2 separate regions of the Homo sapiens genome follow, and region 2 is linked to region 1. The links come from fine-mapping of genetic effects on gene expression. A gene starts in region 1. The other region holds a variant in brackets. All regions are shown on one strand. Distances are between the middles of the regions.

What was found. PIP is the estimated chance that this variant, and not a neighbour inherited with it, causes the effect. A credible set is the group of variants that fine-mapping cannot tell apart.
Region 2: its variant is the best candidate, but not a certain one, in a credible set for the expression of KCNJ2 in whole blood (TOPMed, PIP 0.59).

What each region holds. Positions count from the first base shown.
Region 1 is chr17:70,167,813-70,172,209 of GRCh38, reverse strand. It overlaps KCNJ2 (potassium inwardly rectifying channel subfamily J member 2), which reads right to left and starts at 2,678. Exons shown (of 2, transcript NM_000891.3): 1 at 2,509-2,678. KCNJ2-AS1 (KCNJ2 antisense RNA 1) reads left to right here and starts at 2,808. Exons shown (of 1, transcript NR_036534.1): 1 at 2,808-4,397. RefSeq lists a silencer at 2,623-3,082.
Region 2 is chr17:70,286,132-70,290,528 of GRCh38, reverse strand. No RefSeq gene overlaps it. Among named protein-coding and RNA genes, the nearest start is that of KCNJ2, 120 kb to the right of the region's middle. The variant G/A (reference allele first, on the strand shown) is at 1,799.

The DNA of each region.
Region 1 (4,397 bases):
CTGATTACATAGCTAAAGTCTAGAACCTGTCAAGGTTTGATGGGGTAACGGTCTTAATATTTCATGGTAAAAATTGCTTTTACTGTTAACCTGCCCACATGCCTGAGCGACTTTAAGCAAGCAGAAAACTTCCTTGCCCGGTCCTCTCACTAGCAATTACCAATTCGTGAGCAGCTGAGAAAAGCTATCATTAAAAAAACAGGGCTTACATGCAACTTTATTTCAAGCATATATTCAAAATAATGTTTGAGATGCAATCAATGAGGAGTAGATGAGAACACTAAGTGATACAAATCCAGAGAATTGAAATTTGATTTGATGAACAATGTGTAAATCTCCCTTCCAGCCAAAATATTTAAGGGTCTAGATGTAAATTTCATGGACACAAATAATCATTTTTATCCAGGCCATAACCCATGATGTAGAAAGTATTTTTGGGAAATTGAGAGGTTACATGTGGTGCTGTTCATGTTAAGACTATTTATAGGCTGAGCCAAAATTAAGCATAAGCAATGGAAAAAAATAGTTCAGCGTTTTAAACTTAGGTAGATGTTAAAGGAGAAAGAGCTATGGATAAATGTAAGGTCAAGGAGATCACATGGTACAAATGGGGGATCTAAATTGCTTTGACTATATAGGTAATACTTCCAATATGGCTTATAAATAACTAAAAAAAAAAATCAAATGAGAGTAAATGTGTCCTGTAATATGGTCATGGTGTGCAATAAATAAGAAAGTTTCTAAGGATAGGAAATAAAGATAGCAAAAGAAAACGTACTGGGCTGAGAGAGAGGTCTGCTAATGAGTGTTTAGAGCAGCTATTCCCCAGCTGACGCCATATAGAACAGCCTGAGTGTGCTCTGGGCACATGTTGCTATGTGAGCACAACTGCTAGGAAAGCAGCCTCTTAGAAGCTCAATAAACATGAGGGAGGAGGAGGGGGAAGTGGGGAGGGGAGGGGGATACCCATCTATCTACGTGTGAGCCCCCTGTCTAACATTTATACTCAACGACACTTGGCTTGTAGCACTGCTCAGCATTTGCATACGCTGAAAAACAGACATGTTTGGTAAATAAAAATATACACTTAAAAAAATCTGAAACACTTAATCTGTGCAGGTAGCTGTTTTCAATCTTTCAGGCTACGCAAAAGTCATACAAGGACGCTACAGCTAACCAGAGATTCTACAACTCAGGAATCCAAAGGATGTAGAAAGACTGTGTTCTTTTATTTTTTTTAAAAGCAAAATTCACATGAGTTTAGATCAAATATTTCTTATGGAGACCAAGAACATTAAAAAATAAAGTGTCATTAAAATATGAGAGAGGAGGAAGCTAAGTAAAATGGCCTTGACCTTATCCTCACCCTTTCCACCATGCTTCAATTAACATCTCTTACCCCTTCTGAGCACCAGGATTTTTCCAGATAATGGCAAATAGAAATGAAACATTTGGAAGTGAGCAGGAAAACGCTAACAAGTGTACAGATAATGTACAGCAGACACACAACATTGGTTGGCGAGAGGAAATCTGGCAGCCTATTGATTATTAATGTGAAAAGAAAACAAATGATAAAACGCAATATGGTTTCTTTGCATATCCGAGGTTTTCAAATAACACCTTATTTCCTAACAGGTAAAATCTGAATTTATGAAAATCGTCGGAATTCACAGCCTTTTATCCTAGTGATCATCCTATGATATCCTTACCCAGACACAGACATTAAACTGCCCATTCCCTATCCCTATTTTTTTTCCAATTGTCATGATGAATCCACGCTATGATGCAATCTTTTTGCAGAATCAAGTCGTTTTGACTATTTTGCTTTCCTAAAACCACACTGTCTTCAAGCCAGGTATTAATACCATTATTACTGAAAATAACAAATTGGTTAGGGGAGAGTGATATGTAATGTGAAAGTTTTGCGATCCTCAGGCTCAAATCCAACTCGGGCTCCCGCTCTTCTTTCAGGAAGGCAACTTTGAGACACTCACTCTGTTTGAAACTCACAGCTATACTTGAAGCAATGACGAAAAAAAAAAAAAGCCAAGGATCAAGAATAGTGCTGAGTCCCAAGCTTTGCCAAGGTTTAAGACCAGGGCTCAAGACGCACCCCCAAACCCGCAACCACGTTTTCTTTCTTTTTTTCCCCACTTAGAGTGAGAACCGAACACAGACGCTCTCGCCCTTGCCTCCAAACCCAGTATCTCGCTACAGCTGGTGCATTGGAAGTTATGAGCACAAACAGATGCTGCAGAGAAATCTGTTTCTATTGCTCAACTGTTCCAAGCATGTCTCAGTATTTTTAGCTCTGGGGATGTTCTGGTGCGCACACAAACTATATAGGCATGATCTGGGACTCCGGAGTGTGGGTGAGCGCTACAGCAGTGTGACAGCTGGGCACCTCTGGAGCAGCGGGGCAGGGTAGGGTAGGGGACGGCGGCCAGAGTCCATTCCCCAGGACACACCGGCAGCGAGCGAAAAGGAAGAAAACACAGCAGCCCTTACCTGTTGCTGGCGCAGGAGCATGGGGACATGGAGTGGAAGTGGGGGGTACAGAGGCATGTAAGATCCAGTGGTTTGTAAAAAGCGAGTGAGCCAAAGCAAACCAGAATTCCCAAGACCCAGCCCGCCGGCGCCGGGAAGGCTGCGCGCTGGCCAGGGCTCCAGTGCGCTCTGCAATATCCTGGGCTCTTTTGAGGCGGTCCGTGCGACACCGGCTCTCCTGGCCCCGCCCCCGGCCGCTGCCGGCCAATCGCAGCGCGCCTGGCCGCGCGGCCGGCCCCGGGAACCGCGGCGGGGAGGGGAGGATGCTGCGAGGCGTTGCCAGCGGAGGGAACCTGCCGCCGCCTCGTCCCCCTCCACCCTCGGAGCCCGGCCGGGGAGTCGGGCCCGGGCCGGGGAGGAGGAAGTTGCGGCCCAGCTGGGACAGCAGCAGGTGGGAAGCTCCGCGCCCGGCTGTTGCGGCTGCCTGATTGCAGCCTGGCCTTGGGCAAAGCTTCCTACTCCGTCTGGAGCCCCACACACTTCCCGGTTCCCCCGCTCTTGGGCCGCTTGCCCTGCGTGCTCCTCGAGGGGCCTGCGAGGTGCCAGCGCCGGGTAGAGACCTTTGCCGCAGGGGCAGGATTGTTCGTCGGTCCCGGCGCGTCTCCCTCTCCACTCCCTCTCTGCCGGAGCCCCTCGGCCCTTCGAAGCCCCCCGCGGAGGCTGCAGCGCCCGGAGAAGCCACTGAGTCAATGGGGCGAGGGACTGGGGCGGGCGCGCAGAGCCCCCAGGATTGAGACGCGCGCAAGTGCGGCCACTGCAGCGCCGCTTGGCTGTTTGTTCTCCCGACTGTTCGCGAATTACTTACAAGGCGCCTAGGCTTCTCCGAAGGGTGGACGGCTCGTTCCCTCTCGCCTTGTCCGCCCTCAGTCTCTCCACCACCGCCCGGCACGCTTTGCTGATCTAAAATCAGAACAATTAGAGAGTAATGATTTTTTTTGGAATAGCAACTCCTACAGACACTCAGATCTGCCCTCGCTTCAGCGCCTCCCAGCCCTCCTTCCCAGCAGCCAGGCGAGAGCGCGCAGACCCCTAAAAAGCAACTTCAGTGTTAACCGGGTCTGGATCCTGGAACTTTATAAACTAATCCGTGTGTGTGTGTGTGTGTGTGTGTGTAAACCGAAGAGTAAGTGCCTATTATTTCTGAGTACTTCGGTGTCCTAACGAAGCTTTGCTCCTAAAGGACAGGATATATTTTAGGAGTCTTTCTTTCCACTGAGTTTTTTAAATGTTTATTTTCTCGAGCGATCAAATGTGTCTTTTGTGCAGTTTATTTAAACCTCGTAAGGCCTCCTTGAGTCGCTGAACTAATTCAGCAAACTAGCTGGTATTGTGGACGGCGCAGTCGGGGTGGATTTTTGTGTGTAGGAGAGGTGAAACTGACAATTCAAGGAAAGGTTCTGTGCGAGTCCCCACCTCCCATCCTCATATCCACACGTGGCCCCTAGGAGGTGCTGGTGAAATATGCTTGCTTAGGTTTCGCAGATCCGCACTTACTCCTGCCTTAACAAGTGTGCCTTTTTTCTTAGCACTGAGCAAGGTACTTAAATTAAAAGGGTGTGCAAGAGATGATGCACTCGGTGTGGCTGCTCTGATAGCCAAATGGCGATGTGGTCCCAGTTAATGTGTTGAGATTATACTGTTCACCAAGCCCTGTTACGAACTCTGTTGCCATGCACGTGGGAATAATGCCTGCCCCAAGGGAGGTCTTCTTTAACATCTATTTAGTCATGTGTTATTTATAAACAGCTTGAATTAATACTGTAAAATAGACGGATGTCTAAGAATCTAGGCTGTAGCCTAAAGCTAAATGAACCTGAGGGTAGACAAGTTCACTCTGTATTAACCAAAGG
Region 2 (4,397 bases), 120 kb before region 1:
AGGGTTCTCCTGTTGGGAAGCAGGGACACGAAGTTGAGCAATGAAGACAGAGAGAGAAACTCTGAGCTGAGCAATGAAGAACGAGAGACTGAACTGAGAAAAAATACAGTGCTACTCATCCAGAGCTGTATTTTCACCTATTTGAACTCTGCACAGCCACTGATCTTGGTGCAGAACTGTCTGAATCACACTCTGAAGGGAGAGTCACAAAAAATAACTGAAGAAACAATGTTCTGCCCAGGCCAATTGGGTAAATTACCTTTGTGCTTTTCCATGACTTGCTCTTGCCAGATGGAATACTTGGCCCTGAAGACAGTGGCATTAGAGCAGATTTTGGAGCAGTGGGGTTTTTAAAAATGATTTACTTTTTCCTTCCACAGACAGTTACTCTGCCACAGAAGGCTTCTCTGAAGGATGAGCCCAGAGTCTTTTCCATCATATTTTGCCATTGTAAAAGTCTATCTGCTGTAGTTTCTCTATTTGCTCTGTGTATCCAAGAGAATATGGAAGAAATTTTACACTGAAGATCAAATTTTGGCACTTCCCATGTATAAACTTGAGGACTTCAGAGATGGCTCTGTGACTCTGATGAGTTGAAATAGTTCCTTTCCTTCCACGCCTGTTCCTATTATGAAATTCTATCTTTTACAACTAATGTCAATAGGGAAAAACTCAACTAGAAAATAGTGAATATTTATAGTTGCCTTCTTTCCCTACACTTGCAAGCAACCTTTGATTGTGTTTGTATAAATGCTTAGTACTTTACTATTAACCTTCCCAAATAGACTAAGACCTAATTAGAAGTCCCCTATTAACACCAAAAGAGGAATTATGGTAAGAAAAATACTTCCGTTAAAACTCAGCCATGTTAGCAATGTATGCAAGGTAGCAGCTGCCCAATTTCTGCGAAGGAAAACCTGTCTTTGGAAAAGAATCTTAACTTTTCTTTTATAAATTATCATGCACTATAAATGCAAATCTCTAAAAATTCCCTAAGACATTGTGGATTTTTAGTTTCATTTTATAGATAAGTAAATTGAGAATTAGAGAAATAAAGCAACTTACCCAAAAGCACTCCAGTAGTTTGCAGGAAAGACAGTAGATTTATCACAGGGTTCTTTACTTGAGAGTTCTGCATTCTAGCATAGCATATCCTTTCCATATTAATCACATGTAGGATACAGGAGTAAATGTTATTTTGGTGGGCCAGAAAAATGATAGTGATACATTCTTTGATGTCATTAGCAGAGTAAAATATACAGAATGATATGCCTGGCATGGTGCACTTCTACAGGGGGATATGTAGTGGAGAAAATAACAATGATAACTGCAGGATATGATTCCAATGCATGAAACTCAGCCAGAATTGGAGCCCATCAGAGCAAAATGGAACACAAGCAATCATCTAATTACATTGAACAGATTTGGCAAGAGAGGACAAGAATGAACATGTCAGTTAATTATGAATAATTATTTAACTTCTATCTGTCACAACTGTGAGAGTTACAAATAGCCTGACAATATGGGATCTTTGAAAGAGTATAAATGTATTAATACTTTTCCATATTGATCTGTTGTATATTTTGGGTAGCTGAAGTTAGATTGTTTTAAAAATTAGATGACTTTATTGGAAAATATGAAAGTGTGTGTGTGTGCACTGTCTCGCACTAGCCAACCAAAATAAAAACTGCAGTGAGTAGTAGCATAGCAGAGTTTTTGATAGTCATGACCCAACTCTGTACTTTTTGATAAGTCACTTTTCTTCGTTGGTGGTAAGTTGCTTCATAAGCATGGTGAC[G/A]CAATGGCATTACACCTAAATTTCCTTATTTGTAAACTGGGAGTAACAGGAACAAAATGATTATGAGAAATACATGAGAGATAAAGCACTTAGTACAGTCCTTGTGACATAGGTCAAGCTAATATTCACTATTATTATTTTTGTTATAAATTTGATGAGCTCATTGAGCCAGATATCCTTCAAGGTACTTTTAAACACCCAACAATCTTTGTTTTCCATCTTGTGGTCCCTTGGTCCATTTTTTAAAAAATCTCTGTATATTTCCCCTACCTTGTTATATGAGGAGAGCCGTATATCTCATTTGTCATTAATATCCCTCCCTAAGGAACAATATATGCTTTGTATTCATTTGCAAAACATATTAAAATAGTGATCTCCTTTTAATCAGTGAGTCATAAAAACATGGAAGATGAGTGGAAATGAGATAGAATAATCCAAAAGTATAAGAATCATCACTTACACAGCCCCATCAGGTTTGGGCCAGATATCGTTCCCGTGATTTATAAACAATGGCCTCCCTTTTAGATTTTTAGCTTCTTGTTCACCTTTTGCTACTGATATTATCTGTGTATTTATTCAACAAATGTATTTAAAATAAATGTTATTGTGCATCTTTAAGGTATACAATATTATGTTGTGGGATACATTAAGATTGTAAAAATGTTACTATAGTGGAGCAAGTTAACATGTTCATCGTCTCACATAGTTTCCCATTTCTTTGTTGTTTTTGTGGCAAGAGCAGCAAAAATCTATTCATTAGTCATGAATCCAAAAATCCAGTACAATTTTATTACTGTAGTCTTCATACTGTGCATTAGGTCTTCAGACTTGTTCTTCCCACATATCCGCCATTTTGTATCCCCTTCCCTGCATCTCCTTGTTTCCTACTAATTGTACCTGCTTGCTCTGCAACAGGCACCATCCTTGACACTTAGATATGCAGTAAGAAAGACAGACACAATTCCTGCTGTCATAGAACTTAGAGTTTACAGAGATGAGAGACTCTCCTGATGTATCCGTAAATGTGCTGAGAGTGAGCACCAGAGAGTGCTATGTAAACGTATTTCTGGGAAGGCAGAGAGAACCAAACTTCTATTTTTCTATGGAAATAGAAGAAATGCAGCTCTGGAAAAATAATATTTAAGCTGAGTGAGAGGTGAAGGATGTATAGGACTTAGTTGAAGAAAGAAAGTATTGGGGTCAGAATACTTCAAAGAGAGAAAACCAAGAACGAAGGCCCTGAGGCAGCCCAGAGTGAGGTGAGTGTGATGAACTGAAAAATGCCCATTATGACAGCGGAACAGGTAAAAGGAATGTGATTAATATCTTAGTATATAAACCTTTATTCCAATTTCTAAGAATTTATTATTAGATTGCTTAAAGTGAAATAACTAAATTGATGCATGTTCCAAAAGTTTCCTAATATGGCAAAAGTACTTCTTAGAAAGTTTATACCAATTTTTTATTTCTATAAACTGTATATATGATGATCTTTCTCACCTTATCCTTAGAAATAGTAAGTATTCCTTTTTTTTCTTTTTTCTTTTTCTTTTTTTTTTTTTTTGAGACAGAGTCTCTCTCTGTTGCCCAGGCTGGAGTGTAGTGGCATGATCTCGGCTCACTGCAACCTCTGCCTCCTGGGTTCAAGTGATTCTCCTGCCTCAGCCTTCCTGAGTAGCTGGGATTACAGGCACGTGCCACCACACCTGGCTAACTTTTGTACTTTTAGTGGAGACAGGGTTTCCCCACATTGGCCAGGCTGGTCTTGAACTCCTAATCTCAAGTGATCCACCTGCCTTGACCTCCCAAAGTGCTGGGGTTACAGGTGTGAGCCACCGTGCCTGGCCAGTGTTCTATTTTTTAAAAAGATGAACTGGTTTAACATGCTGTATTAGTCTGTTCTCACGCTGCTAATAAAGACATACCTGAGACTGGGTAATTTATTAAGGAAAGGGGTTTAATGGACTCACAGTACCACATGGCTGAAGAGACTTCACAATCAAGGTGGAAGGCAAGGAGGAGCAAGCCACATCTTACATGGATGGTGGCAGGCAAAGAGAGAATGACAGCCAAGCAAAAGGGGTTTTCCCTTATAAAACCATCAGCTCTTGTGACACCACGAGAACAGTATGGGGGAAACTGCCCCCAAGATTCAGTGATCTCCCACCAGGTCCCTCCCACAACATGTGGGAATTATGGGAGCTACAATTCAAGACGAGATTTGGGTGGGGACACAGCGAAACCATATCACATGCTAACCATTATAGTGAAAAAGTAGCAATATCTTTTTAGATTTAACACAAAAGCTGCTTACTTCCTCTAAAGTTTTTTTCTGATTACTCATCTAAAATAGCTTCTATATGGCATACTTCCCCATGATTCAGATATTCATTTTATACTACATTATATTGCAATTTTAAATGCTTTTTTTGTTTTCTTAATATTACTCAATGTACTTTTTTTTTCAGTTAAATTCCCTGCTTTGGGAAACAGGAGGGTGATGGTTCCCCATGAACAAAAGTCTATAGAATTTTTGTGGTTGTTGTAATATTCACAGATTTAAAAATTTCAAAGGACAAAATTAAATTCTTATTTCGAC